Homo sapiens: one gene and its partners. The protein of the gene in region 5 purifies or fractionates together with the protein of the main gene of each other region. This does not show direct contact. Each region holds a gene or a part of one and is shown on either strand. Other genes may lie near its edges.

The links.
Region 1: the proteins of ALDH3A1 (region 5) and IL37 purify together in Homo sapiens (affinity purification with mass spectrometry; one large-scale study listed by BioGRID and IntAct). This does not show direct contact.
Region 2: the proteins of ALDH3A1 (region 5) and AZGP1 purify together in Homo sapiens (affinity purification with mass spectrometry; one large-scale study listed by BioGRID and IntAct). This does not show direct contact.
Region 3: the proteins of ALDH3A1 (region 5) and RCCD1 purify together in Homo sapiens (co-immunoprecipitation; 3 studies listed by BioGRID and IntAct, with this or other methods). This does not show direct contact.
Region 4: the proteins of ALDH3A1 (region 5) and ACVR2B purify together in Homo sapiens (co-immunoprecipitation; one large-scale study listed by IntAct). This does not show direct contact.
Region 6: the proteins of ALDH3A1 (region 5) and CDSN purify together in Homo sapiens (affinity purification with mass spectrometry; one large-scale study listed by BioGRID and IntAct). This does not show direct contact.
Region 7: the proteins of ALDH3A1 (region 5) and SERPINA12 purify together in Homo sapiens (affinity purification with mass spectrometry; one large-scale study listed by BioGRID and IntAct). This does not show direct contact.

The regions. Positions count from the first base shown.
Region 1 is NC_000002.12:112,909,514-112,914,154, forward strand, and holds the start of IL37 (interleukin-37), read left to right. Parts: upstream 1-1,651; 5' UTR 1,652-1,735; intron 1,736-3,449; 5' UTR 3,450-3,499; coding exon 3,500-3,581; intron 3,582-4,278; coding exon 4,279-4,341; intron 4,342-4,641. UniProt on the Homo sapiens protein: Immune regulatory cytokine that acts as a suppressor of innate inflammatory and immune responses involved in curbing excessive inflammation.
Region 2 is NC_000007.14:99,965,824-99,969,895, reverse strand, and holds the end of AZGP1 (zinc-alpha-2-glycoprotein precursor), read left to right. Parts: intron 1-1,465; coding exon 1,466-1,741; intron 1,742-2,609; coding exon 2,610-2,893; 3' UTR 2,894-3,166; downstream 3,167-4,072. UniProt on the Homo sapiens protein: Stimulates lipid degradation in adipocytes and causes the extensive fat losses associated with some advanced cancers. May bind polyunsaturated fatty acids.
Region 3 is NC_000015.10:90,957,813-90,961,354, forward strand, and holds part of RCCD1 (RCC1 domain-containing protein 1), read left to right. Parts: intron 1-2,087; coding exon 2,088-2,186; intron 2,187-2,515; coding exon 2,516-2,686; intron 2,687-3,212; coding exon 3,213-3,242; intron 3,243-3,542. UniProt on the Homo sapiens protein: Plays a role in transcriptional repression of satellite repeats, possibly by regulating H3K36 methylation levels in centromeric regions together with KDM8.
Region 4 is NC_000003.12:38,470,633-38,474,803, forward strand, and holds part of ACVR2B (activin receptor type-2B precursor), read left to right. Parts: exon of another isoform or gene 1-908; coding exon of another isoform or gene 909-957; intron 958-4,171. UniProt on the Homo sapiens protein: Transmembrane serine/threonine kinase activin type-2 receptor forming an activin receptor complex with activin type-1 serine/threonine kinase receptors (ACVR1, ACVR1B or ACVR1c).
Region 5 is NC_000017.11:19,741,128-19,745,298, forward strand, and holds part of ALDH3A1 (aldehyde dehydrogenase, dimeric NADP-preferring), read right to left. Parts: exon of another isoform or gene 4,008-4,171; 5' UTR 4,003-4,007; coding exon 3,841-4,002; exon of another isoform or gene 2,443-3,840; intron 2,337-2,442; coding exon 2,105-2,336; coding exon of another isoform or gene 1,504-2,104; coding exon 1,418-1,503; intron 1,086-1,417; coding exon 877-1,085; intron 84-876; coding exon 1-83. UniProt on the Homo sapiens protein: ALDHs play a major role in the detoxification of alcohol-derived acetaldehyde. They are involved in the metabolism of corticosteroids, biogenic amines, neurotransmitters, and lipid peroxidation.
Region 6 is NC_000006.12:31,114,392-31,117,922, forward strand, and holds the end of CDSN (corneodesmosin precursor), read right to left. Parts: intron 3,139-3,531; coding exon 1,634-3,138; 3' UTR 696-1,633; downstream 1-695. UniProt on the Homo sapiens protein: Important for the epidermal barrier integrity.
Region 7 is NC_000014.9:94,502,970-94,506,469, reverse strand, and holds part of SERPINA12 (serpin A12 precursor), read left to right. Parts: intron 1-2,247; exon of another isoform or gene 2,248-2,437; intron 2,438-3,500. UniProt on the Homo sapiens protein: Adipokine that modulates insulin action by specifically inhibiting its target protease KLK7 in white adipose tissues.

The DNA of each region.
Region 1 (4,641 bases), on a different chromosome or scaffold from region 5:
GTTTATGAATACTCCATACTACACTAGGTAGCACCCCCTATTAAAGACAAACTCTTCTCTCTCATTTCCCTTCCTTTCCGGAACCACTTGGTTGAATCTCTACAAGTCTCTATTGCAACTGCCTCAACATGGCACCCTCCCTGCATCTCCATCTTCCCTGTCCTGAGAGCAATGGCCTGCTGCCCCCACACTCACATCCTCATTCATTCCAGAAGTGAGCACCACAGAAGTGCCTACAGTTACCCCAACCACCTTCTTAGAAGATAAGTTAGTGTTTGTTTTGACTTTTTAAAATTTTTACTTCCTCTTTTCCTTCACAATCTCATCCCATCCCAAGAGGTTTATCAAGAAGTTCTCTAAAGATATGTGTCTCCTTATGGAATTTAACAGAAATCAGGGATTTGTATTCTAGCCATCAAGGGAATAACATTTTTCCAGGTCTTTAGACAAATAATGGAATACCTTGCAGTAATTAGATACACTATTGTAGAAAAGTATTGATGAAATGGAACGATGTTTGAGATATCATATTGAGTAGAAAAGGCAAGATACATTAAGTAGGAAATGTATCTTACAAAATAATTTGTCAGACACACTCCTATATTTGTATGTTATATAAATGCGTATGTGAAGAAAGGCTAGAGGATGAGACCACAGTCTTCGGTGAAGTTTAAGAGATGAGGCTGCAGCATGCTCAGAAAGGCCTGGGTTATAGTTCTTCCAGTAATTAAGGATGTGATCTTGGGTAAATTGTCCATCCTCTCTAAACTGCACCACCTTTTGTCTGTAAAACAGGAAGGATGGTATTTACCCCCAGGGTCATCAAAGGATTTGGTTGGAGAAAAATAAATAAATGGGCTGAGCCCAGACCTGGCACAGTGAGAGCACAGTGGTTGACTATTGTGCTGGCCTGTTGTTCCTGTGTTATTGACATGCTGCTGGTGGTGGTCCAGAAGCTATTACCTTAATTGGTTATGTGGATTTCCCCTCATACTGAGCAGCTGTGTGTGGTGTTGTAAAACATAGCCATACACAGTAACTGACAAGGGCAAATGTGATGGAAAAATGCAAGGAAGTGCAGATAAATAGCTAATGGGCTGTAGAAGGAAGCTAGTCCTTGGAGGGCTTGATCAAGGAAGGTCCTTTTGCATGTCACCTTTGAAGAAGAGGGGACATAGAAGAGGTATAGTGCATCCCGGAGTGTACCTGGAAGGGAACATGAAAAGAGGACATTTTTCTCTGGGACATGGGGACTCCACTTGCATGAACTCTGGAATTGGGGCAAAGAACCATCATGAGAACAAGGGCTTCCTTGAACCTCCCAGGCTCATTGGCTGATCTAAACCCTGTGTCCCCTCTTTCCTTCACTCTCCTCTGTTTTCTATACCTGTATTATTGGACTGGACTGGAAGCCACCTGATCTATCACAAGTACCTTGAAATGTGTTGAATAGGTGTGGCACAGTCCTTAGCAGAGTGGCACTACCCCCACAGGAATTTGTTTATACCGTTGGCATGGAAAATAGCAGGAAATGAGTGATCACTGATAACTGAGGATGCTATTTATTATTGGCCAAAGGAATACTTGTGTTGTATTTGCATAACCACTCACAAACTGTTGATTACAAATGAGTACCAGACCTAGCTCCTTCAAGTAAAGGATCCTGAGAACTGAAGGCAAACAGAGCTCCAGGAGTCCAAGACAGAGCCACAGACCACGAGGATCCCTGGCCCAGGTAGGTGGTCCTCCTGCACTGGCTTTCAAGGCCAACAGGATGGATGGGGAAGTAGAGTAGCATCTGGCCATCTAGACCCTTGCTTTTTATCCCCACTGGAAGCACATCTGAATTTCTAAATATGATCTCTGAGACCTGCCCAGAACACCTTGCTCTCAGCCCCAGTAGCAGCCTGCTCTCTCCCAGGAGGGCTTCCACTAACAAGTAGGGCATTGCTGGAGGGCCAGGCAGACACTAGCTTAGGAAATCCACCAACCCTGGAAATGCTAGTCCCTTCTCTGAAGGCTCAGAAGACTGACTTTAGAGTCTAGAAAATATTGGTCCTTGGGAACAGATTTTGAGTGCAAAGAGATGGACTTCAGATGGCCAGATGCACTGCTTCTTTAGGGAATTCTGTGAAAGCTCCCTGCATTTATCTTAATACAGGCAGCAGATTTCATGAGTACCCCCGAGGGATGGCCCCAGGTCCTCCAGCCTGTGAGCATCCTTCTGTCCTTCAGCAGCACCACAGTATCTTTATATGTCTTTGGATACCTACGTTTCTGCCAGACATCTCTTGCTCTGATGTTCTGGCTGCCAAATTCTCTGTCAAGCGCCTCCAATTTTTTGTGTCCTTTGATTTACCCCAACATGACAAAGGCAGTTGTGCTTCATGTATTCAGGGATACTGCCAAACCACAAACAGGTTAAAATCAAATAGCAGATATCCCTGTTCCTAAAGACCCATCAGCTCTACCCACCTGCTCCTGCTCACCGTCCTTATTGTTGAGTCCTGAAGCCCTTCCTTGTCATTTTTATTTTTTGCATGAACAATTTAGTTCCCTTTGTCTCACTCCTAAACCTTTCTCAAAGGATTGGATTTGTACACAAACTGCCTATCTCTGCAATCTTAGAAGTGATATGATTCTGAACAAATCACTTAACTTTTGATTTTTTATCGGTAAGATGGGAATACCAATTTTTGCTCCACTTCTGTCCTATGTTGGCCTGGGCTGATGTTGAAAGCTCTCGGTCAACTGAGATAGGGTGTGCAGAATTTATATATATAAATATATCTCCTCCAACCCCTCCCAATGAAGCAAGTCACGTGAGTCAATCCTACCCTAAGATATTAGGGATTGAGCCTCCTGGGACATTTGGTGGCTTAGGTTTTCATGAAAAGAGGTTGCAGAGCAACTGCTTTTTGTTAGGCAAAGATTAGGCTACTGCAGAGACTCAGCAAACTTCTATAGAAGGTGTCAGATGGTAAGTATTTTAGGCTTTGCTTGCCAGATGATCTCTCAACTAGTTAACCATGCTATTGTAGCCTCGAAGCAGCCAGAGACAATATGTAAACAAGAGCATGGCTGTGTTTCAATAAAACTTTATTTAAAAAAACAGTCAGGGACCGGATTTGGCCAAAGGCCATAGTGTGCCAGCCCCAAGACTAGAGCAATGCACTTTTAACTTTTTTATTTTATTTTTGTAAAATGCCAAGATCCACAAAAATGCTATTGCACCCCGTGTGTTAGCACTGTGACTCAAGGTTTGGGAAATTCTGCTTTGAAGGCGTGATAGACAGGAGAGCATGGTCTGGCCCCTTGGTGCCTTTCTGGTTGCAGCGAGCATTTCAAACTACAGAGCAAGGCCAGTGGTCTGTTCAGCACTAGAGACATGCAGCAAGGTGTCCTGGGGTGAGAAGATGCCATAACTGGTCCCCTTTCTATCTCCTTAGGTCTTGGACTTCATTCCATTTTCTGTTGAGTAATAAACTCAACGTTGAAAATGTCCTTTGTGGGGGAGAACTCAGGAGTGAAAATGGGCTCTGAGGACTGGGAAAAAGATGAACCCCAGTGCTGCTTAGAAGGTAAGGTTCTTGTAGAAATCTACCTCAGGGCCAAAGTGTAATTCCTAGAGCAGAACTTTGCTAGGTGCTGTGCACAGACCCAGTTGTTTCCTGCTGACTTGCACAGTAAGTGAGCTTTCAAATTTCCCTGGACAAATAACTAGACAAGAGAAATTCTGGAAGGGAAAAGGAAGCTTTGCTTCAGTGTCCAGGCACATCAGGTAGTAGATAAAAGGATCGTCCTCACCTACAGATTTGGGGCTTTAGCATCCTGTTTGCCAACTGGATGGTTGCATATGCTTCAAAATGCACCTCTTCCCTCCCAACATTCCCAAGTGGAAGAGAAGCCTCCGATGAGAAGCAGCTCTCTAAGGCTGGGCTGAACAAATGACCCAGGCACAGGGCATCTGAGTATTCCATGAGGAACACATTTGGGTGTTGCCCATGGGGGACAATAGGAGGAGGCTTTTGACCCAAATGATTGTCTACTGAGGTGTGACGGGAGAGGCCTGTGACATGCCAGAGGCCAAACCCGTGATCCAGTTCATCTCTATTCTATGTTTCTGAAGAGGGAAGCTATGATTTAATGTCATTACTATCATGCTGCTCTAGTATTTCTCAGCACATACACAGAAGAGGGAATTAAATGGTCTTTGATACCCCTAAATCCTTGGAAAATCCGAATTGCATATGCTAACCTCACTGCGTCTGACTGCAGACCCGGCTGGAAGCCCCCTGGAACCAGGCCCAAGCCTCCCCACCATGAATTTTGTTCACACAAGTAAGGCCTCGGGGTGAGGTGATGGGGGTGGCTGAGGTGCGAGGGTGGGGATGGGGGATGGAGCCATTGGGTCCTCTTACAGGGTGGGAGAATTGTAGAATGGGGACACCTAAGGGTGCTGGATGGGGCTGAAGTCTTTCCTTTGTGGAAGCAAATCCCATTAGGAGATAACTCTGGGAAAGATGAGCCCGGGGAGGGGCAGGTGATGCTCACCTGCTAAGAGGCACAGGGCAAGGAAGAGTTTGTGCCTGGGAACCTTCCAGGTGCCTCTTCTGACCATAGCCAAGAGACTGGAGACAC
Region 2 (4,072 bases), on a different chromosome or scaffold from region 5:
TGGCTAATGGGCAAGAAGGTTGGGGCTTTAGAGATTTGGGATAAAGATATCAAACACCAGAAAGGTAGAAAGAAGTGATCAGATTAGGGTTACTTAGGTGATGATATGAACTCTTCCTAGAACTGAGAGAAAAAGAGAGCCTTCCTTTACTCATATGAAATCACAAATAATTTCTATCCAATTTGGAAGTACACTTTGGTGTAGTTGTGACAGCTTCCTCAGGACTCAGCATAAATTCAAACAAATAATTGTCCTTAGAAGAGATGCTATAGAAGAGATAGAAATATATTCATATTCTGTAGCTTTTTTTTTTTTGAGATGGAGTTTTGCTCTTGTCACCCAAGCTGGAGTGCAGTGATGCAATCTCAGCTCACTGCAAACTTTGCCTCCTGGGTTCAAGGGATTCTCCTGCCTCAGCCTCCCGATAACTGGGACTACAGGCTACAGGCATGTGTCACTACTCCTGGTTAATTTTTTTTTTTTTTTTAAGACTGAGTCTTGCTCTGTCTTTCAGGCTGATGTACAATGGCTCCATCTCGGCTCACTACAACTTCTGTCCCCCAGGTTCAAGCGATTCTCCTGCCTCAGCCTCATGAGTAGCTGGGATTACAGGCATGTGCCAGCACACCCAGCAAATTTTTGTATTTTTAGTAGAGATGAGGTCTTACCATGTTGGCCAGGCTGGTCTCAAACTCCTGACCTCAGGTGATCCTTTGGCCTCAGCCTCCCTAACTGCTGGGATTACAGGCATGAGCCACTGCGTCCAGCCTAATTTTATATTTTTGGTAGAGATGGGGTTTCACCATATTGGCCAGGCTGGTCTCGAACTCATGACCTAAGGTGATCCATCCTCCTCAGCCTCTCAAAGTGCTGGGATTACAAGTGTGAGCCACTGGGCCTGGTGCTTTTTTTTTTTTTTTTTTTTTTTTTTTTGAGATAGGGTCTCACTCTGTCACCCAGGCTGAAATGCAGTAGTGTGATTTTGGCTCATTGCAGCCTTGACTTCCCAGGCTGAAGTGATCCTCCCACCTCAGCCTCCTGAGTAGCTGGGGCTACAGGCATGCACCACCATGCTGCGCTAATTTTTATATTTTTTGTAGTGGTGGGATTTCGCCATATCACCCTGGCTGGTCTGGAACCCCTGGGCTCAAGCGATCCACTCGCTTCAGCTTCTCAAAGTGCTGGGATTACAGGCATGAGCCACAGCGCCCAGGCTGTAGCTCTCTTAAGGAGGAACATATCTCATCTGAGACAAACCTGAAATGCCAAACCAAACTGAGTTAGCCCCTCTCTGTCTGTTGTATATATTGGAGTAATAACCTATTTGTCTTGATAAAGGGATTGCATGCTTGAATTGCAAAAACCTTTATTTCTTTTGGGTTGCCCAATGTGCAAGACTAAGAGTTATTTTGATAAATTTCTCACCAGGCTGACTGTCTCTCTGTGGGGTCGGGGGAGTTTTCAGGGTCTCACGTATTGCAGGGAAGGTTTGGTTGTGAGATCGAGAATAACAGAAGCAGCGGAGCATTCTGGAAATATTACTATGATGGAAAGGACTACATTGAATTCAACAAAGAAATCCCAGCCTGGGTCCCCTTCGACCCAGCAGCCCAGATAACCAAGCAGAAGTGGGAGGCAGAACCAGTCTACGTGCAGCGGGCCAAGGCTTACCTGGAGGAGGAGTGCCCTGCGACTCTGCGGAAATACCTGAAATACAGCAAAAATATCCTGGACCGGCAAGGTACTCACTGCTTCCTGCTCCCCAGTACTGAGCCCAGAATAAAAGACGATCTCAGGCTAGGAGCTCAGGCAACATCTTAGTCCGGTCTCATCTGTTCCTGGATGTCCCTCAGACCCCCAGCTTTCATCTTTTAGGATTTATTCCTTCCCTGGGATAATATAATTTGTGGTCCAAAAAGAACATCATCAAAATTTCAGGCAGAATGGGCCAGGAAGGCCATTCTTTCTTGATGAGTGTCCCCAAATCATCTCCAATTAACAGACAAGGAGCTTGAGGTTAGGGAGGTGAGGGTAACACTGTCTGTAAGAGGCAGAGCTGGGACTCAAATTCCAGATTTCAGATTCCAAATCCCATCGTTTTTTATCTCTACAATGATGCCTCCCATCTGGGTGGTGGAGAGAAGGGAGGCGTGTAAAATGTCAGCCCCAGAAGGACAAGAGCAAGCCAGTGTGAGCGGAATTGATGGCTGCAAGCTGAGACTTGGATTGGAGACGTAGTGAGACTCAGGATTGTGCAGTGCTGCAGGGAAGTGGTTGCTGGATAGAGGCATGGGCTGAACCAAGCAGCTGGACTGAGACTGGGGGACAGAACTCCAAAGCCCACTGAGATGTGGGAAAACATGGAGAAGCACACGGAGCATTCACAACTTATTGCCGTCAGAGTCAATACATGGGTGAGGTGGGGATTGGGCAAGAGGGAAAGCGTCAGCCTTCCCTGATATTCTGGAAAGTCTCCCGGGGCTGGGGGTGGGCAGGTACAGAGCTTCGAGCTCTGCTGATCGCTGACATCCAGGGGTGGGGGTAGGAAGAGACCTGGGCCGGGAGAAGTCCACCTCAAGCCTGCAGTGTCACACTCTATCCCTCCACAGATCCTCCCTCTGTGGTGGTCACCAGCCACCAGGCCCCAGGAGAAAAGAAGAAACTGAAGTGCCTGGCCTACGACTTCTACCCAGGGAAAATTGATGTGCACTGGACTCGGGCCGGCGAGGTGCAGGAGCCTGAGTTACGGGGAGATGTTCTTCACAATGGAAATGGCACTTACCAGTCCTGGGTGGTGGTGGCAGTGCCCCCGCAGGACACAGCCCCCTACTCCTGCCACGTGCAGCACAGCAGCCTGGCCCAGCCCCTCGTGGTGCCCTGGGAGGCCAGCTAGGAAGCAAGGGTTGGAGGCAATGTGGGATCTCAGACCCAGTAGCTGCCCTTCCTGCCTGATGTGGGAGCTGAACCACAGAAATCACAGTCAATGGATCCACAAGGCCTGAGGAGCAGTGTGGGGGGACAGACAGGAGGTGGATTTGGAGACCGAAGACTGGGATGCCTGTCTTGAGTAGACTTGGACCCAAAAAATCATCTCACCTTGAGCCCACCCCCACCCCATTGTCTAATCTGTAGAAGCTAATAAATAATCATCCCTCCTTGCCTAGCATAACAGAGAATCCTTTTTTTAACGGTGATGCGCTGTAGAAATGTGACTAGATTTTCTCATTGGTTCTGCCCTCAAGCACTGAATTCATCTGAAACTCTTGGTTTCCCCTGGAGGCCATGGTTCCTGGGCACCTTGACCTGGGCAATCCCAAGTGTGGCCTGAACCCCCTTTCCCTTGGGGATTGTTCAGGTGTCCCTAGACGCCTTGTGGTATTGTACCTAATACCCATGAAGGGAGAGGATGATATTACTTGCCAGTGTACACCCCCCTGTGATATTGTTCATAATGTCCAGAGTGAAGAAAGATGATATTACTCCCAATATCACAGAAGGTGTACACCCCCCCTTGATATTGTTCCTAATACCCAGTTGGGGAGGGGAGAATATCTCTCCCAATATACAAGGGGTGTTTAAACTCTCTGTGATATTGTTCCTAATATTCAGGGGGGACAAGGATGATATTACCCAAATATTGCAGGGGTTGTACACCCCCCCTTTGATATTGTTCCTAATATCCAGGGGTGGAGAGGATATTACTCCCAATATTGCAGGGGTCTACATCCTCCCCCCGTGACATTGTTCTTAATAACCAAAAGGTGAGAAGCTGACATTACTCCCAATACCACAGGGGGTGTACACCCCCTATGAGATATTGTTCTTAATATCCAGGAGGGGAGAAAATGATATTACTCTCAATAGCGCAGGGAATTTACATCCCCCGTCGTAATCTTGTTCTTAATATTCAGGAAGGGAGAGGATGATACGACTCCCAGTATCGCAGGGGGTGTGCACCCCCCCGTGATTTTTTTGCTAATATCCAGGGTGGGAGTGGATAATACGCAGGAAGTGTACAGGTCTCTGTGATATTTTTCCTAATATCCAGGGGGGAGAGGAAGATATTACTTTT
Region 3 (3,542 bases), on a different chromosome or scaffold from region 5:
GGCCTCCTTCCAAATTCATCCATCCATCGCCCAGTCAGTTATGACTCCTAAATGCCTCTCACCCTCGGCCTCCTCTGCCTGCACCATGGCCCACTCACGCCTGGACTCTGGCATTTGTTCCTAGCTTCTCTGTTACTGGTCTCACTGCCCCTCCCCTCCTCTCCCCACCTGCTCCCAGCCAGGACTGTCTCTTAACAGTGCTGCCGAGGGAGTATGGAGTGTGAGGGGGCAGCTGAGCCAAGGAAAACGCAGAAACGCTGCAGTTGCCTAGGGGGCCATGATGTGTGGCACAGGGTGGACACTGGGGTGCCCACCAGGCACCAGGATGGTGATGAGTGTGTCCCTGTGGTGGTGCCACAGCTGGCCAGAGTGAGGAGTTTCACTTGGTGATCCAGGTGTAGCTCCTTCCTAGGCTGTTAGAGCCCATGCAGAGAGGGTGAGGCTGGGAACAGATGATCTTTGTCTGTGTCTGGGGCTCTCATTCTGGCTGCTACGTAGATCACCTGGAAGCTTAAAAAATTACCAATGCCAGGGGGCCGGGCGTAGTGGCTCATGCCTGTAATCCCAGCACTTTGGGAGGCCGAGGTGAGTGGATCACGAGGTCAGGAGTTCGAGATCAGCCTGACCAACATGGTGAAACCCCGTCTCTAAAAAAAAATACAAAAATTAGCTGGGTGCAGTGGTGTGCGCCTGTAGTCCTGGCTACTCGGGAGGCTGAGGCAGGAGAATCGTTTGAACCTGAGAAGCAGAGGTTGCAGTGAGCCGAGATCGTGCCACTGCACTCCAGCCTGGGCGACAGAGCGAGACTCAGTCTCAAAAAAAAAAAAAAAAAAAAAAGAAAAGCTACCAGTGCCTTCCTCCACACCATATTCTCATGGAATGGGCCTGGGCTGGTTGCCAAGCTCAGGAAACCCTGGGCTGAGCCTCGCCAACGTGGCAAAACCTCGTCTTTGTACAAAAAATATAAAAATGAGCTGGGCGTGGCGGCTCGTGCCTGTGGTCCCAGCTACTCGGGAGGCTGAGGCTGGAGGATCACTTGAGCCACGCGTGAGTGGAGGTTGCAGTGAGCCAAGATCACACCACTGCACTCCAGTCTGAGTGACAGAGTGAGACTCTGTCTGTCTAAAAAAAAAAAAAAAACAAAAAAAAAAAACCCCAACCTTGGGCTGGAGAGACCAGAGGGCTGGAAACAGCCCAGTGGGACGCCCTGCACTCAAGGTCCAGAAGGAGTTTGAGGCCTTAAGTTTAGTGTAGAGGCTGAAGCACGGACACATCCCACCAGACTTCCTAGTTTCAGATCATTGCTCGGGCCCTGGGACCTCGGGCCTGGTACTTAACCCCCTCTGTGCCTCAGTTGTGAATAAAATAGGGATCCTGCGTAAATGGTGATATTGTCATAAAACCACCTGTAGGGCTATTGTGAGAATTAAGTGATTATATTTGAAAAGCATGTGAAACATCAGCATGGATTAAGCACTTCATAAAGCAGCTATTGTTAGAAATTTTTAGAATTAGGCAGCTGTTCCAACCAAAAAGCTCCAGTGTTGTGGGAGGCCAGGAAGGGGAGAGCTGCACGTGGCTTTCATCAGGACCGGCTGTGGGTGCAGTTGAAAAAGGGGCACAGGCCGGCCCAGTGGTTGTTTTATTTACTTATTTAGAGACAGGGATTTTGCCATATTGCTGAGGCTAGTCTCGAACTTTTGAGCTCAAGTGATCTACCCATCTCAGCCTCCCAAAGTGCTGGGTTACAGGCATGAACCAATGCACCTGGCCCTGGCCCAGTGGTTTTGAAAGGGAGACCACTGCGGTACTTCTAGGGATACATTTCTGAAATGAGGGGCTATTTGGCAGCATAAGAATGGAAGTAGAAGGTCCAGTAAGGGACTTAAAGGGTGATCTGAAGGCATTGAGGGGATGTGAACCTAAGACAAGCCCCTGGGGCCCGAGGGGAAGCGCCTTGGCCTGGAGTGCTACCTTGGGCAGGGCAGGCTTTAGTTGTCCCCAGGAGCGGATGCGATGGGGAGGAGAGTTTGGATGGATGCAGGGGCTTCACAGTCTGTTTCATGTGTCCCCTTGATCTCTTTCAGAGACTGGGGATATTTATATCTGGGGCTGGAATGAATCAGGGCAGCTGGCCCTGCCCACCAGGAACCTGGCAGAGGATGGAGAGACTGTCGCAAGGGAAGGTGAGGGTCATCTCGGCTCCCACAGCCGTCTCCCCAGGATGTGGCTGTCATTCCTAACTCCTGGCTGTATGCTGGCCTCAGAGCTACACTGCTCAGATGGAGCATGTGAGCCCCTTATGGGAGGGAGCATTGGCAAGGCTGATGCCGGTCTTGGCACAACACACTTGTGCAGCAGTGCCAGCCCTGCCTGCAGAATGTAGGGGTTGGGAGCACCAGCTTTGGAGCTAGGCAGTCGTGTACCTCAGAGCTGTTGTGGCAATAAGTGACTGCATGAATAAGATTTAGCTCAGGGCTCAGTTGGTGTTCACATCATTATTATCATTCTGAAGCCACAGAACTGAATGAAGATGGTTCTCAGGTGAAGAGAACGGGTGGGGCTGAGGATGGAGCCCCTGCCCCCTTCATAGCTGTCCAGCCCTTCCCGGCATTACTGGATCTCCCCATGGGCTCAGATGCAGTCAAGGCCAGCTGTGGATCCCGGCACACAGCTGTGGTGACACGTGAGTGGGGCTGGGAGGCACTCTGCTCCACTCGAGCTGGTGCCTACGGAAGGGGGTGTGGTCGACGGAAAAACTTCTGTCTTAAGGCTTCTGTGGCTCATACAGAGCAGCTACCTTGCTCAGTGGATAAGCCCCAACCCCCTTGTTGTTTCACAGTAGTTCCCCAGCCTGTCAGGCCCAGAAGTTTCTTCCTTCTGGTGGGAGGCTGATGCTTTCTGTCCTCCCTGCACGGCCACAGACACATTCCCTGCCCGCCGCCGCCTCTGACAGCAGGGACTGTCCAGTCTGGCATGGAAGACTGCGGCGCTCGGTAGCATGGCACACAGGAAGATCCGCCACTTTTTCCCTCGGGATCCTCTGCCATGCCACGTGTGATCAGCCAGTTGTTAAGAGAATATGTTGTTCCATGCCAGGCAGATCTCATGAGGATTGTAATATGCTAGCTGTGGGCTGTGCCAAGCTGGGCTGGACAGATGCCTTGCCAAAGAACCGTAGTGACAACTATCGATTGTCCTTTTGCTTTCAGGAACAGGGGAGCTCTACACCTGGGGCTGGGGTAAGTAAAAGGATTGTTTTTGTGACCCTGAAACCAAGGAGAAGAAAGACCTGGGAGTACAGGGCAGGTGACAAAGCCAACAAGACTGGAGGAAGCAGGGGCCTCGGCCAGGTCACTGGGAGGAACAGGACTGCTCCCTCCCTGGGGTTGGAACAGACATAGGCGCGCTCAGTCCGAGGCCAGACAGGGGAGACATGGAGAGGATATCGGTACCACCCGCCTACCTCTCTGAAAGACTGTCTTAAGGGAGTATCCAACCAGCACTTACAAAGCAGCTTTTTGTGGATGTGACACTGGGTG
Region 4 (4,171 bases), on a different chromosome or scaffold from region 5:
ATGTCTGATTTGGGAGCTGGGTAGTAAGAACAGTGACACTAAATACGGAACACAAGCAATATGTTAAATTAGATGTACATTGGAAGAGTCATTAGAGTTTAAAATATTTAAGTTCCAATGAGGGATGGTAGAGATGTTGATTTAGGCTTTTAGTATAAGTGTACCCATTAAAGTTTATAGGCCTAGCTTACAACGGAATAGGAATGAGATGTATAACTTTAAAAGTGGCTAAAATAGGAAATTTTAAAAGATAATCCAAATAGAGGTAACGGTAGAAAAGAAACAAATTTAAACATACCCAGTAATCATATATATAAACATACCCAGAAATCATAAATGTAATGAGACCGAACTCTAATTAAAAGATGGTGTTAGATTGAATTGGGGGGAGGGAAGAGAGAAAGATTTTTTGTTTAAGTTAGAAAAGGTAATTTTCTCTAATACTAACACACGAAATGTCATATAGCTATGTTAACATCAGATAAAATGGACTTTTTGGCAAAGAGCATTCATTACAAATGAAGAGGGTTACTATATAGTAAGAAAAATTTTATTACCAAGAATATATAAAATAATTTCTGTAACTCAAAGGAAAAGTAATCCAGTAGAAAAATGAGAAAAGATACAAACAAACAGTTCTCAGAAGGAAATGTTAGTAATCACAAGAAGATGATCAGTCTCACAAGTAATCAGGGAAATGCAGATCCAAATTGTGTACCATTTCACACTCACCAGGTGAACCCCAGGTGGGGGCTGTCATCTGTTGGGAACTTGGATTGGCACATCCACTTTGGAGAACAGTTTAACAGTATTTAGTCAGTTGATCTTTAGACTCTATGACCTAGCCAAGAAACGCCCACACATGAGTGCACACACACACGCACACACACAAATGTAAAAAAGAAGTCATGATGGCATTGCTGAGATCAACAAACATAAATAACCTGAGTCCAGTAGGTGAGTGGATACTTAAAGTTATGTGAGGTTATAAGCTTCTGAAATAAATGCACTTCAGGGCTGCAGGAGAGGCAGCAGTATATAAAGAACATGCACTCTAGAGACAGGCTGCCTGGGGTTTGAAGCCTGATTTTGACACTTAATAAGTAACTTGGGTAGGTTACTTAATCTCTTTGTGCCTCAGTTTTTATAAAATGAGGACCTGCACAGGTTTATCGTGAGGATTAAATAAGTTACTCTTTGCAGAATGCTTAGAATAGGACCTGGGATGTAGTGTGAGCTGTATAAGTGTTAAATTAATGCATATCAACCTGGATGGCTTACAAATATATGGATGAAGGACAAAAAGCATATGTATTAGAGATTGTATTTGGTTGCTAGAAATAGTCAAGAGTTATTCTCTTGGGTAAAAGAAATGCAAAGACACAATGTTGGAATATTTTGGGTTTTTTTCTCCCCTATTGTACATGCCGCTCCACAGTGTGCATACACGTGTGTGCATGTGTCAGTGTCTTTATCTGTTATACACTCCAGCCTTCCTTCCTGGCCCCATCTGTCTCTTCAGGTTCCCTCCATCTCTACACCCCAGCTGCCCTTACTCTGCTGCTGGGGAGGTGGTGGAGATGCTGCTTTGTGGAGCTGGGGGCTGTGGAATCATAACATGGATAAGTCACTGCTCTTGGCCCTCCTTCGCTCTTATGGAGGGACCTGCTAGGGCTATAAAGGCAGCTGAGCAGACTCAGGGCTGCCTTTCGAGGGGTGCTGTCTGTGGGGAGAGCTGCCTTTCCTCTCTGGGCAGATGTGAAGGCTGGACACCAGAGGGAGAACACTGGCCCTCCTGAGATGTTCTTGCTTGTCTTCCTCTTGGGCATGGAGGCTTCTGGCAGGGTGTGCCTCAGTGTGCTGGCAGAAGCAGACCTAGATAGATGTAGTGGTGAGTGGCACTCCTTCTCACCTGGTGAGTGGCACTCCTTCTCACCACTACAGTGCCCACAAGGGTGGGGCTGGGCACCTGCTCCCTGGGGTAGGTGGCTGCCAAGGGGCCTCCAGGAGCCAACTGAGCAGTGGTTCTGCTGGCTGCTGGGGTCACAGTTCCTCTAGGAGACACTGGCTGGACTGGGGACACCCAAGTGCAGAGCTCAGGGACTCCAGGGGAGGTGGGCATGGACACTCCACCTCTGAACCATCTCCTCTTCTTTCTCTCCCCATTGCACTTTGAGCCCCTCACAGATGGGACCTTGGTGAGGTTTCTCCCTTTTCTCCTCAGGGCATAGTGGGTATGTCCAAGGCCTACTGGACTGAGCTGCTTCATAGGAGAAACGAACCTCCCAGTATTTGACCTCCCAGTGCGTGTCTTCGAGCATCCAAACTAGCCGGCTTAGGTTCTGCTACCAGGAATGTTGGTTCAGAGTGCAGTCTGCATGTACTGTGTGTGTGTATGTGCATGTACTGTGTGTTTGTGTGAGGGTCGGGGGTGGTGTATGTGGGAGTGGTCCTGCCAGGAGGGATGGTTTGGGGAGCACTGGGTACTTTCTCTCTACTGGCATTAGGCCCCTTGGAGCATAGGGACTGCCCCTTGGGGACACTGCCACTTTTATTTCAGCTTCCTTTGGAGGCCAGCAGTTGGTTTGGCTGTGACTCAGGGATGCAGCAAGCCCCTTGTCCTGGTGTCTGGGGGCCATGCTCACTTACCTCAGGGCTATGAAGCAGCAGGCCTAAGGGGGTACCATAAGCACCCGCATCTTGGGAGCATGGCTTCTCCTCCTGCCAGGTTAGGCGAGTGGGCTGGGGGTCAAGGGGAGCCTCCTGTGCATGGATGCCCTGGCTTCCTGGGTGTGGGTGGGAATCTGTATCTATTAAAAGGCAGAGGTGGCCTGTGGTTGGAGTATTGCCAGAGGCTATAAATAGCTGAGTGTGTGAAGAAGGAGAGTCTGGGGAAGAGAGAGGAATGGGGGAGGCCCCTGGGTCTCCAGGTGGCAGCAGAGCCCTGTGGTGAGGGAGGGGCATGGGCTCTGAACATAAAGCTCTTGTAGGCATGGTGTGACTTGATGGGCTGGGAGTCATACAGGGGACTTGTGTTATGAGGGATTGTCATAGGCAGTAGGGGATGGTTGTGGCTGTAATATAGCCAATGTGCCAGGCAGTGTTCTAACCACTCTTAAAGTGCATTAACTCAATTAGTTCCTACAACTACCCTAGCTGTGAAGTATTGGAGTAGGACTTGAAGTCTGGCCCGCTCACGGCTGCCATTTTTCGCTGGGTTGCCTGTAGGAGGATCTGGTCAGATGGGGGTCAGGTGACATCTTTTTGAAATGGAGTCTTGCTCTTGTTGCCCAGGCTGGAGTGCAATGGCACGACCTCAGCTCACTGCAACCTCCGCCTCCTGGGTTCAAGTGATTCTCCTGCCTCAGCCTCCTGAGTAGCTGGGATTACAGGTGTCCGCCGCCATGCCTGGCTCATTTTTGTATTTTTAGTAGAGACCAGGTTTCACCACATTGGCCAGGCTGGTCTCGAACTCCTGACCTCAGGTGATCTGCCCGTCTCAGCCTCCCAAAGTGCTGGCATTACAGGCGTGAGCCACCGTGCCTGGCCCAGCTGACATCTTGAACCCTTGGGTCCTCTGAGATTTGGAACTCCCAGCCTCTTCACTTGGGTACTGCCCATGGTAGTGGCAAGTGGGTGGTCCCTGACTTATCAGTGGCCTGGAGAGAGGAGGTTACTCTGTTGGCCTCCCTTGTTTGGGCTCCTGCCTCAGCACAGAGGCTTGTTGCTTGTCTGAATGGAGATGGAAACTCTTTGAGGACCTAGGGCTTGGGCTGCAGGCTGAGGCCATCCTTGTTGTCCCCTCCTTTCGACATGTTGCTCTAGCCATGATACCTATACCCTTCTGTCCTTCTGTCTGTCCACCCATCCATCTATGATGTGTTTGGAATGATTCTGCCACTTAGGACGGCAAGGGTCCTGCCTTTGTCGGCTTTCCAGTCTTGTGGGGAAAGCCTGACATTTAGAAAGTAGTTGTCGAGTACATGTGTAATGTTTTATTTCTCATACAAGTGTTCATTGTGTTATTTCCTCTTGAGATTATTTTTGGTTATATTATTGGTACACTTTTTGGATGTCTGAAATAATCCTTTAAGCAACAACAGGCCATTAGTCAAGGGTGGTTAAGTTAGGTGGCAGGGGAAGCACAAGGGCCAGTGGAAATAGAGAGTTT
Region 5 (4,171 bases):
TCTGGATCGAGGGGTCACAGAGGATGTAGTCAGGGGCCACGCAGGTCTGGCCACTGTTCATGAATTTCCCCCAGGCGATGCGTCTGTGAGAATCCCAGACTGGACTAAATCCAAAAGGTTCCCCAGGAGTTGCATCTCGTTTTGCAGACCCCTGAGCTCTCTGGTCAGCAGAAGCCATCGGCTGTGACCTTGCCACCAGTGAGTCCTCCCAAGCGGTCTGCTCACTTCTAGACACTGGACCGAGCAGACCCAATGGCCCTGATCATGTTCACCGGCGACTGGTGGGGAATTTCTAGAGGACGTCTGTTGAGGGCAACCTCCGTGCTCCCTGATCACGCCCTTGTCCTGCACAGCCAGGTGTCACTGCTACTCGGGCCCCCCTACATCTCTGGGGCCACAGATGTGGGATATGGAGGTGGTCAGAGCCCTGGCTAGGGTCAGGAGGTGCAGATACGGGTTCTGCCCCAGACCCCGAGCAGCGGTGGCCCTTCTCCCCTCTGGGCCTGCTCTCCAGAACTCAGATTGCCCTGCCCCATCAGAGGGCTGAACCCAGTACAGTTCCTTGTGTCCTGAACGTCCCACAGCTGCTTTTTCTGCAGCCTCTGCTTGGAGTACCACTTCCCCAGTGATGCGCACTCAGCAAACAGAGCTCAGCCTAGACCTCTCCCCCTCCAGGAAGCCTTCTGGGACTCCCCACACGTCTTCTGTGCATGTGGTCCCCACCCCTACCCCCATGTAAGTTTCTGCAAGGACCACTGCTCCATGAGGCAGGGGGTGTCTGTGTTACTCAGAGTGGACCCACAGCATGAGGTGCAGTCATGTGTGCTTGGAAAGCAGAGTAAGGACTGCTGCAGCCAGCAGGCCCGTGCCTCTCACCGGCAGGCCACGTCCAGGTCACAGTTCTTGTCCACGTAGCAGGGACTCTTCCCTCCCAGCTCCAGCGTGACAGGGGTCAGGTGCTTGGCAGCAGCCGTCATGATGATCTTCCCCACCCCCGTGCTGCCCGTGTACAGGATATGGTCGAACCTCTCCTTGAGCAGCTCCGTGGTCTCAGGGACACCCCCATTGATTACTGGGTACAGATCCTTCCATGCAAGGAGAGAGGGGAGGCTCAGCAAAGACCAAGCCCCTCCTCGCTCTTGCAAGTGTGGGTGAGTTGCAGTGGCCAAGACCAGCAGCCCCGAAGCTCAGCACCCCACCTTGGGCGGGGGGTAGCAGTAACTGGCAGTAGACCGCCTTTCCTGGCCCAGGGGCTCTGTTCACCCCAATGAGAGAGGGCAGCTGCTAAGAACAATCCTCAGCCCCACCAGTAGCTTGGCCCCTTGCTGCAAGAATTCACTATTTCTCACCCCCCAAAGACCTGGCCCTAGCTCAGTTATGAGGCCATGGAGTTACGAGGCCCTGGAGGGCAACTCACCTTGTCCAGGTACTGGGGGATGATGGTAGCCAGCAGGCTCGCCATGTTCTCACTCAGCTCCGAGGGCTTGAGGACCACTGAGTTCCCTGCAGAGCACACCGAGCCAGGCCTATGCCCAGGGTACTTCACCAGAGGCTCTGCCCTCCCAAGGACCACACCTGAAGCCTCCCCTCCATTGTGTGTCCTCGGGACAGTGGATGGAAGAGTTGTTAGCAAACAAGCACATGTCACGGGGCACACCCAGGAGCACGCACGGGCACATGACAGAGGGACACACACGGGCACACGCTGGCCAGAGCTGCACCACCTGGCCCTCTGAGTTGCTGAGATGTTGGAGGAAAAGCAGAAAGGGGAGAGAGGCTCTGGGGGCCCGGTTGGTAGAACAGCGCTGGCCCATTCTAGGAAGGAAGCCCTGATGCATATTAGGTGACAGAAGCTCCAGCCCCCCAACAGGGGTGGGGGAAGGCAGGCCCTCTCTGTATCACCAGGTGTGGACACCTGAGCCTGACTGGACCTCAGGCACCAAGAGGCCTGGCTAAACAGCTTGGTCCCCACAGCCTCCTGTGACAGACCCAGCAAACCCTTATCTGACCCCAGGACTCTTAACACAGGCCTGAGCCCATCCTGGCTTGGCTCCACGCTGGGGGACGGTGCTCCCCCAGCTTCCCTTCCCACAGGGCCATGCACCTGCAGCGATGGCGCCCACCATGGGCTGGATGGTGAGGTTGAAGGGGTAGTTCCAGGTGCCAATGACGAGGACCACGCCCAGTGGCTCCGAGTGGATGTAGAGCTCGTCCTGCTGAGTCTGGGGCGTCTTCTCCACGGGCTCATCCGCGGCCCACTCAGGGAGCTTCTGGATCATGTACTCGATCTCCTCTAGGACGTACACCACCTCCTCATAGTAGGCGTTCCATTCATTCTGCAGCGACAGAGCCGGAGTGAGCTTCCAGGGCCAGGGCCCGCCTGCAGCTGGGGCGAGTGGGGAGCCCCACTGCTCAGCTGCCAGGGTGATGGGGGTCACTCACCCAGCCCAGGGTGGGGGCAGCCGCAGAAGGCTCCCAGGGGAAGCAGAGCCAGGATTAGCCGTTGGACCTGTGGGTCTGAGAGGACCCCTTTCTGCCAGAGGGGGGCCCAGGTAGGTTTGCGGCCCCAGGGGAGAGAGCCGGTGAAGGGACCAGGCATGGGCAACGGAATGGATCCAGGTAGGGGGAATAGAGCCGGGCAGGGGAGAGTAGATTCAGGCAGTGGGAATGGATCCGGGGAGGGGGGGATGGATCCGGGGAGGGGGGATAGATTCGGGCACTGGGAGCTGGATCCGGGCAGGGTGGAGGGAGCCAGGCCCTTTAGTTGTCTGGAGGGGGATGCAGGACCAAGGGCTGCTGGGCGCTCAGGGCCTCCTGTGGGGAGCAGGGGTGAGAAGAGGAGATGCAGACGGCGGAAAACGCGTCTCTTTTATAAACTTGGGCTGTGAAGAGCAACACAGAAGCTGTAAAGTCAACAGAATGGGTTTCCTTGTTGTTTCTGGTTTAAGATGAGAAGTCCTGAGCCATTTCTTGAAAAGTGCAGTAGCAGGCCCGGCGCTGTGGCTCATGCCTGTAATCCCAGCACTCTGAGAGGCCGAGAACTCCTCCTGAGGAACTCCTGAGGGCAGGAGTTCAAGACCAGCCTGTCCAACATGGCGAAACCCTGTCTCTACTAAAAATACAAAATTAGCCGGGCATGGTGGTACACGCCTGTTGTCCCAGCTACTGGGGAGGCTGAGGCAGGAGAATTGCCTGAACCCGGGAGGCGGAGGTTGCAGTGAGCCGAGATCGCGCCATTACACTCCAGCCTGGGCGACAGAGCGAGACTCTGTCTCAAATAAATAAATAAAATAAAATAAAAATAAAAGTGCAGGAGCAAAGAGGGTAGTCGGTGGGAGGATGGGCTCCGGAGCGCTGGACCCCAGGCAGCATGTGGGGACAGCAGGGGGCTGCGAATGCAGAGGTGTCTGGTCTTGCTCAGGGTGAGGGACGGAACAGCCCCTGTGAGAACTGGGAGGGAGGGGAGAGCCCCCCATGCCCTCCGGGGTGCCAAGCTGCTCTGGTTCCTGGTGTGGAGAACCAAGTGGTCCTGCGTGGGGCTGAGGAATGGGGAGGACCAGAAGTTCAGGGTGTCGGGGCAGCAGGAAGTTGAAATGGGGGACGCTGCGGGCGGGACGCGGAGGCCGGGCCAGGAGGAAAAGGCCAGAGGGCGGAAGAGGCGGCGGGGGCGCGCGGGGCGCGGCGGAGGGGAGGGCGGTGCGCCCAGTCTCCGCGACCGAGGGGCCAGGTGGCCCCAAGTCCTTCCTGAACCTCTCTGGGTCGCACTCTCCCCAGCCCCTCCCCCCACGCCCCATCGCATGGCCCCGACACTGGCAGAAGGCGGCCGCCCAGCCTGAGCACCTTGTGCAGGTCTGCGGCCAGCGCGCCCACCAGCTCCTGCTCCTGCTCCTGGATCAGGCGCTGCAGCGCCTCCAGCTGCTGGATCCGGAACTGCAGCGGACGGGTCCTGCCCGAGCTGAAGGCGGCGCGGGCGCGCTTCACGGCCTCGCTGATCTTGCTCATGGCGCCTGGGGACAGAGAGCACCTGCAGCTGGCTGAGGGGCACGAGCGCGCCCTGCCTCCCACCCTGCCTGAATTCTATAGGAAGGGACTTCCCTGGGCTCGGCCTTGGGGAAAATGGCCTTTCCGCTGGAAGGTCCACTTTCTGCCTCGCCTCCTCTCCCGCCCCTCA
Region 6 (3,531 bases), on a different chromosome or scaffold from region 5:
TCTGCCCTCCTTGGGATGCGGGAACTTCGTCCGCCTCAGCCTCTCCCTGCCTGTCTCAGGACTTAAGTCGCATGGACCCCACCACACACTCCACTTTCTCTCTCTTCTCCAGTGGAAGCGACTCCTCTTTCCCACTGGGGCACTCTGCCTTCTCAGCCCTCACCTGAGAGCCATGTTGCTCACACTCTCACTCTGGACCCCAGCAGAGCAGGGAGTGTGAAGATGGAGAGACCACCGGCAGCTCTGTTCTGCCACAGGCTGGGCCTCTTGATCTAGGCCAGTGAGTCACCCTGCTTGGCTGCACTCCCTGCCCTGCTCCCATCCTCTCAGTCCTTTACTCTCTCCACCCCCAGCTCCAGGAACAACGCCCAACTGGCCTCCTACTCAGCTGACAGGAATCTGGTTGGAGTTGTTGTGTCCCAGCCTTCCCAAGCTTCCAGGTGTCCCAGAAACCCAGGAAATCGAGACTCATGACTCCCAGAGAGGATGGCATCTAGAAGGTGAGGAATGCTAATGGTGGAAGAAAAGGAGTTTGGGTGGGGAGGGGAGGGGAGGGGAGGGAGAGGAAACACTGAGGGCCCTAAATAAGGGGAAGGGGGACCCCACGGTGAATGAGGAATGGGAAGAGAATGGATTTCCTGGAGCAATGAGAGAGGAGGGAAATGGCGGAAGGATCTGGGAGGCCAGGCAATCTCTGCTTTCAGTTCAACAAATATTTATTGTCTTCCTCCTCTGTGGGAGCAGCTGGAAGGTAGAAGAGAAACACAGCCCGCTTTTGAAGGAAAATGAGGAACACAGAGACCTCTAGAGGCGTAGGAAGAGCACCACCCAGACTCTCAGAGGAGACCCAGGACTCCAAGAAGGCAAAAAGTCTGCACCTAGTCCCCACAGTTTACTGAGCCATCTGTCCAGGATCCAGGGACAGCAGGGAGCCTGCTTCAACCTCTGAGGGTGCCCCAGTGTCTCCCTCACCCAGGGAATCATCTGAGCACTGAGGGAAGTGGCCACAGGAAGGGGCTGAGATAAGGGCCTTGAGAGGCAATGGGTGTGTTGGGGACGGTGATCTAGGAGGGCGTGGTGAGCTCTGTAATGGAGGGTGGGGTGGAATTGGGAGCGAGAGCCCAGTGGCATATTGGGTGGGTTGACTAGATGTCGAAGAAAGGTCAGTGAAAAGTGGCCACTGTTTCCAGATGATGGTTTGACTTTGCTTTATTTGGTAAAGGGGAAGAGGAAGGTATAACTTCTTCAGGCGTCAGAGGTGCTCTGAGAGCATTTCAGGGGTTTCCCAGTTGAGAAGCTGATGGGGGTGTTACTCAATGGACCATTTCCACACAGTAGAGGGAATTGTAAGGGGTGGTGATCTGGCTGAGGGGCACTGTGGTGGAATGGGAATTTAAACAGTAGGAGAGAATCAAGAGAGGAGCTTTGAATCTACCATTTTGAGAAGAGGAAGGAGGAAGGGGTGATAAGAGAGAGTCTGCAACCTTGGGGTAGTGGAGAAAGCAGAACCACTCTTTTGGGAAGGAGGGAAACTGAGCTAACCCTATGCCTGGGCACTGGACTTCTCCCATATGGGATATAGTGTATGTGCTTGTTTGTGCCCAAGGCATGCACACACACAACAGTTGACTTCTTATGGACTGTTGAGTAACTCTCCTTGGGGTAGGAAAACTTCAGGGTCAGCTAGCTGGGGCCCCAGAGGCTTCACTTGGGCTAGGATATCCCGGATGGAGCGGCAGGGGATCTTTCCAGCACTGCTGGAGCCACAGGGCTTGGCACCAGCGGAGGGATCAGGATGGGGAGAGCCATCGGGGCCCCCAGTCAGTGTCAAGGAGGAGACAGACATGCAAGGGTGACCAGAAGAGCTGGACTTGCTGCCACAAGGCTGAAGGATGATTTTGCCACTGGATTGGGAACTGGAGCTGCTGCTGAAGGAGCCGGTGCCTGGTGGGGAGCAGGGGCTCTGGGAAGCACTGCCGCAGGGATGGTAGGGTAAACCGGAGCTGCTGGAAATGCTAGAACTGCTGGGGACTCGAGAACTGGAGGGAGAGCAGGGTCCCTTGGAGCCCGTGGAGCCGCCTCCACAGAGCTGGACCCCACCAGTCCCCACTGGCTGGAATGCAATGGCCGAGGAAGCTGCCGACTGGCTGGGGATGATGGGGTTGCTGGAGAAGTATTTGCCCTCAGAGATGGGGGGCCCAGCTGCAAAGGAAGGGACCCCTGGAGAGCCTTTCACAGGGTTCTCTTTGGTGAAGTAGCCCACAGGGTAGATTTTACCCTTACTGTAGGTCATGCCTGGAACCAGATAACTGTCAGAGGAGCCACCCACCACCTCGTAGCCACCATAGGATTTGTCTACAGAGGTGATTGGGGGACAGGGCTTGCCTGGAAGGCCACCATTGCTACAGGGGGGACCTTGAACCACTCCAGGGGCACCAGAACCGTGCTGGTCCACCACCACCACCACAGGCCTCTGACCCCCTGACACAGAGTGGGAGCTGGGGATGTAGGGGCCGGAGTGCGAGACGATGGGCCCTCCACTGCAGGGAGAGTCGGGGATGTCCGAACTACAGGGACGCTGGTTGGAGCTGACGCTTTGGCCACTGCTGGATACCCCAAAGGTCTGGGAAGAGGAAGAGCTTTGTCCAGGCTGGGAAGGGTTTAGTATTCCGCGGTAAGAGTTGTCATTGGTTGGCAGAGCAGAGCCATTCCCTACTTGGAAGCTGCTGCTGCTGAACTGAAAGCTGCTGCTGCTGCTCGAATGAGAGCTGCTGCTTCCCGAGTGAGAGCCGCTGTTTCCCGAGTGAGAGCTGCTGCTCCCCAGCTGGGAGGAACCGGATGCACCTTGTAGACTAGAGCCAGATCCGGAGGAGTAGCTGACCTGGGAATACCCCGTTCCTGGCTTAAAAGATCCTGCAGAACCACCCTGGGCAATGCTGGATCCGCTGGAGCTACCACTGGAGCCACCACCAGAGCTTCTGGCACTGGAAATGGAGCTGCCAGAACTGCTGGAGCCACTGTAGCTACTGAAACCGCTGGAGTCACCCTTCCCAGTGAGGCAGGGGTCGTTAGGGGAGGTGATACGCGTGGGGTCCTTACAAGGGTCTGAGAAGGTGCCAATGCTCTTAGCCAAGGTCCCTGTGGAGGAAAGCAGTGGTTAGTAAGGGCCAAGGAGGCTTGGCTTCCTCCCTCACCTTTCTGCCTTATCTCAGTCATCGGCCTCTCGGGTTTCTCCCAAGCAGAGCGCAGGGAGAGTTTAGGGATGGAGAAAGGAGGAAGAACTGGCTATTGTCTCTAAAGGATATTGAGGTGGCCGAATAAAGGCATTTCTTTGTTTGGGAAGGGTGGGCAAACACCAACCAGAAAAATAGAAAATTAGGTGCCAAAGTGAGTGGCCTCAAAGGAATACATTGAATATAAGAGGGGGCTGGGCACAGTGGCTCACGCCGGTAATCCCAGCACTTTGGGAGGCCGAGGTGGGAGGATTGCATGCGCCCCAGAGTTCAAGACCAGCCTGGGCAACATAGACCC
Region 7 (3,500 bases), on a different chromosome or scaffold from region 5:
TATGACACAGTCCAGAGCACCCCAGCTAGGATCAGGTGCCTCTTGTGTGTTCTCACCTCCCAGAGTTACCTCTACCTTGGCCCTTACCTAGTGTGACTTGTATCTCTGTGTTCTGTGTTCCCATCAGACCAGAGCTCTTGGAGTTAGGGTGTGGCATGGTCACTAACATGTTTCTTCCATCTGGGAGATCCAAAGAGTGAGGATGAGGACCAGAAATTCCTAGCTCCCCTCTCACCCCTACACATGGCAATAATGTAAAAAATATTCAGGCCACCCCTCAGCCTCCGACCAGTGCCTTAGGCCCATTAACTTATAACAATAATCTTCCCAGGCTGGACAATCTCCTTCATCCTTCTAGCCCCTGATGAACACCAGGCACAAATCCATGGGACCTGAATCTTAACTACAGGCAGTCGGGGCAGCCTCAAGTCTAGGCTGAGGTCCCTTAATGGGCACGTGAAGGGGGCTGCTCCCTCCCATGCCTATATCCTTCACTGCTCTCCACAGACGTGCACCTCCTCCGGGGCTCTTTTCCCCAGGCAGGACAGGCAACTCCCAACCCAGGTGTAGCGCCTGGCTGGCCGGCAGCCCACCTGTGGCTACCCTCTGCCCATGGCCTACTGGCCTCTGGCACTGTCTGAACTCAGGCATCCCCAGTGCTGCCCGTGTCGCTCAGTGGGCATCCCTACCCTGGCCTCTTCCTGCATGTCTCCCGTGGAAATTTACCCTGGAGCAGAGAGTGTCTGGGGCAGGCAGGGAGGCATGGCCCTCAGACTCACACAGGCCTCACCCTGTCATTAGAGGGCAGGTTTTCCCTCCCAAACCAGATGTACAGACCTGGATTCTGGGTCAGTGTCCACCTCACTGGCTCTGATCTTCCACCACTATAGCCTCTACAGTCACAATAGGACCACCTGTACTCCTTGGTCTCAGCCTGTCCTTCTGTCTCCTCTGCAACCCCTTGGTGACCAGAGCCGGCCAGTGTGAAGTCTCTCATCTCGCCGTTCACATGGTGTCTTTGACCCATGCATCCCAGCAGGCAGGCCTTGCTGCCTGGGCGAGGGAAGGTGGTGGCTCAGGGGCATCTTCAGGGGTGGTTTCTGATCTGGGCAGCTCTGGAACCCATATCCCCATGTCCTTGTTCATCTAGGCCCTGAGTGCATAGAGTCTGTGGCTGAACCAGGCCTGGGAATGAACTAGTGTCTCCTCTTTCCAAGAAGGTTTGTCTGGGTCACCTGCTCTGAATAGCTCTGGGAATGAGAGTCATGTCTTTGCTAAAAGCAGCAACCCAAAGGAAGGGAAAACAACACCCATGGCTCTTCCGAGGCCTCCGAGGTGTTTCGATCAGATACGACCTACTGTGAAACACCACTCAATGGGGAAGAAATATGTGAATGTTTTTTCTGCTCACTGGAGCTCATTAGATTAAGCAGAATTGAAGATAGGCATGTTGAGCTTATTGCTCTTCCATCCCAGCATCAGTGGGTTTGGAATGTTCCCAGACATCTTCAATGCTTCTCTCTCCAAGTGGTAAAACTGAAGATAAGAATTTTATTTTATTTTATTTTAAGCCTTTGAAAAATTAATCCTAAAGTAATATCTGTTTTTTAAAGACAATTTGGAAAATATAGAAAAGTAAGGGGGAGGCAGAGACAACAGAGTTCAGCCATAGTCTCATCACCCCAGCACAAGAGAACCCAACCATAGTCTCACCACTCCAGCACAACAAATGTGCAATAGGAAAACAATTTGTAATTTCCATGATCATGAACTTTGAGGTGAATTTTTAATTCCTGTTCTTCCTAACGGAATCTACGCATTTAGTTGTCTATTTGTCTGTCCTCGAACTTTTTCCCCAAAGGACTCCATGTGAGCTAAGCTAATTTGGAACACATGAAAAAATAGCAAAAGAAAATGGTGAGGGATACATGGGAATGACCCCAAGAAGCCCAGTTATCAACCTGTTCCCATGGGCAGCAATGATGATACTTGGGTTGAATATTCAGTATTAGGACTCTAGGCTCATCTACTTGTAGACTATTCTGGCTTCCATACCCAGAGAGCAACTGGGAAATAGAGTCGTTGCAAAAGGTGTCTAGTGGACTTCATTAGGGAAGCCACAGCCCAGTGGGTGTGGCCGGTACGATATCATGCCGCTGCCTCCACAGGGAGAGCTCCCAGGGAGGTGGTGTGGCCATTGCTTCCAAAGCCTCCATCACCTGCCCATACACGCCAGCTCATTGTATTGGCCTTACTCTTCCAAGAGGCCATGGAAGTATAAATAATAAAGCAAGAAAGGCAGATGCATTTGGCTGGCTCAGTGGACTTCTGAATGTACTGTGAGTATGAGACCTTCCCTTCCAAAAGATCCGGTGCTTCTTGTCTATTCCACACGAAGCTTGCTTCAGATCGAGGGAGGATGTAGCACTGTCCACAGGTGGGTGTATGAAAGGAAAATTCTAGAGGATCTCCAAAATCCAGGTAAACCCCTCTTGAAGAATTTGTTGAACATCTTTGGCAGAGTGTTATGGATGTCTACTGCCCAGTGCTTTTCTAGAGAGAGAAGCTTCATGAATGTGGGGATGGGAGAAGTCTTGGGACATAAGTGGTGCCTCCAATTTGGGTCCACCCCTGCTGCATGATGCTGGCCACAGTCATCCTTGTGTGTGAGCTGTTTGTGAATCTTTATCTCTCTCTGAGGATAGAGGCTGGATCCATCAACTCACTGGTTCATGGAGAAAGTGAGGCGAAGCAGCCTGTTCAATGCATTTCTGCAGAATTGCCTTCACCACTGATGCACACTGCAACCACAATCTCTTCCTTTGTCCACTCTGGGCCTCATTTCCCTCTTTATGGCACAGATAGTCCTGAAGTCAATGATCTCTCAGCCTTTCCAACCCACATACCCCTCCTCCTAGAATGCAGTCACGGAAGGGGAGGAGGACCAGGTCAGGCAAACAGCTGGAAGGTTCTTGAGGGTTTGGAGAAGGCTGTGGGGCTTGTTGGGCTGAGAGTCAGTCTGCAGCATCAATATGGACCATTTCCTGGGCATTGCTCTAGTGCCCCAGTGCCTGACACAGAGTGAGGACTCAAACATATTTCTTAAGGAATGAAGGCAGAAATCTACAGGGCAAATTAACAAGTGGAATGGGGACATGTTCTCCACTCTTTGTTTTCCAGAAAGGAGGAGAAAGTATATTGCTGTGGTCATCAGAGTTTGTTTATGGGGCTTCTCTTACTTCTAACAGGGGAGAGAAGATATGTCTTACCACCACTTAGTTCTAAATGTGCTTTTAAAAATAATAATTTAATTTCTGATGTATATAGAGTGATTTCTTCTTAAAGCAATATCAGTCCTTTAAAACAGGTGAGCCACAGAGCAGGCCTGAAGTGGCTCTTCAAGTGCAGGGCTCTTGTGAGGGTCTTCTGTTGGGAGGCCAAGGCACACCTTTAGCAAGGATTCCTCAGATTTCTCAGCCCAAAGAAGGGCACCGGGTTTA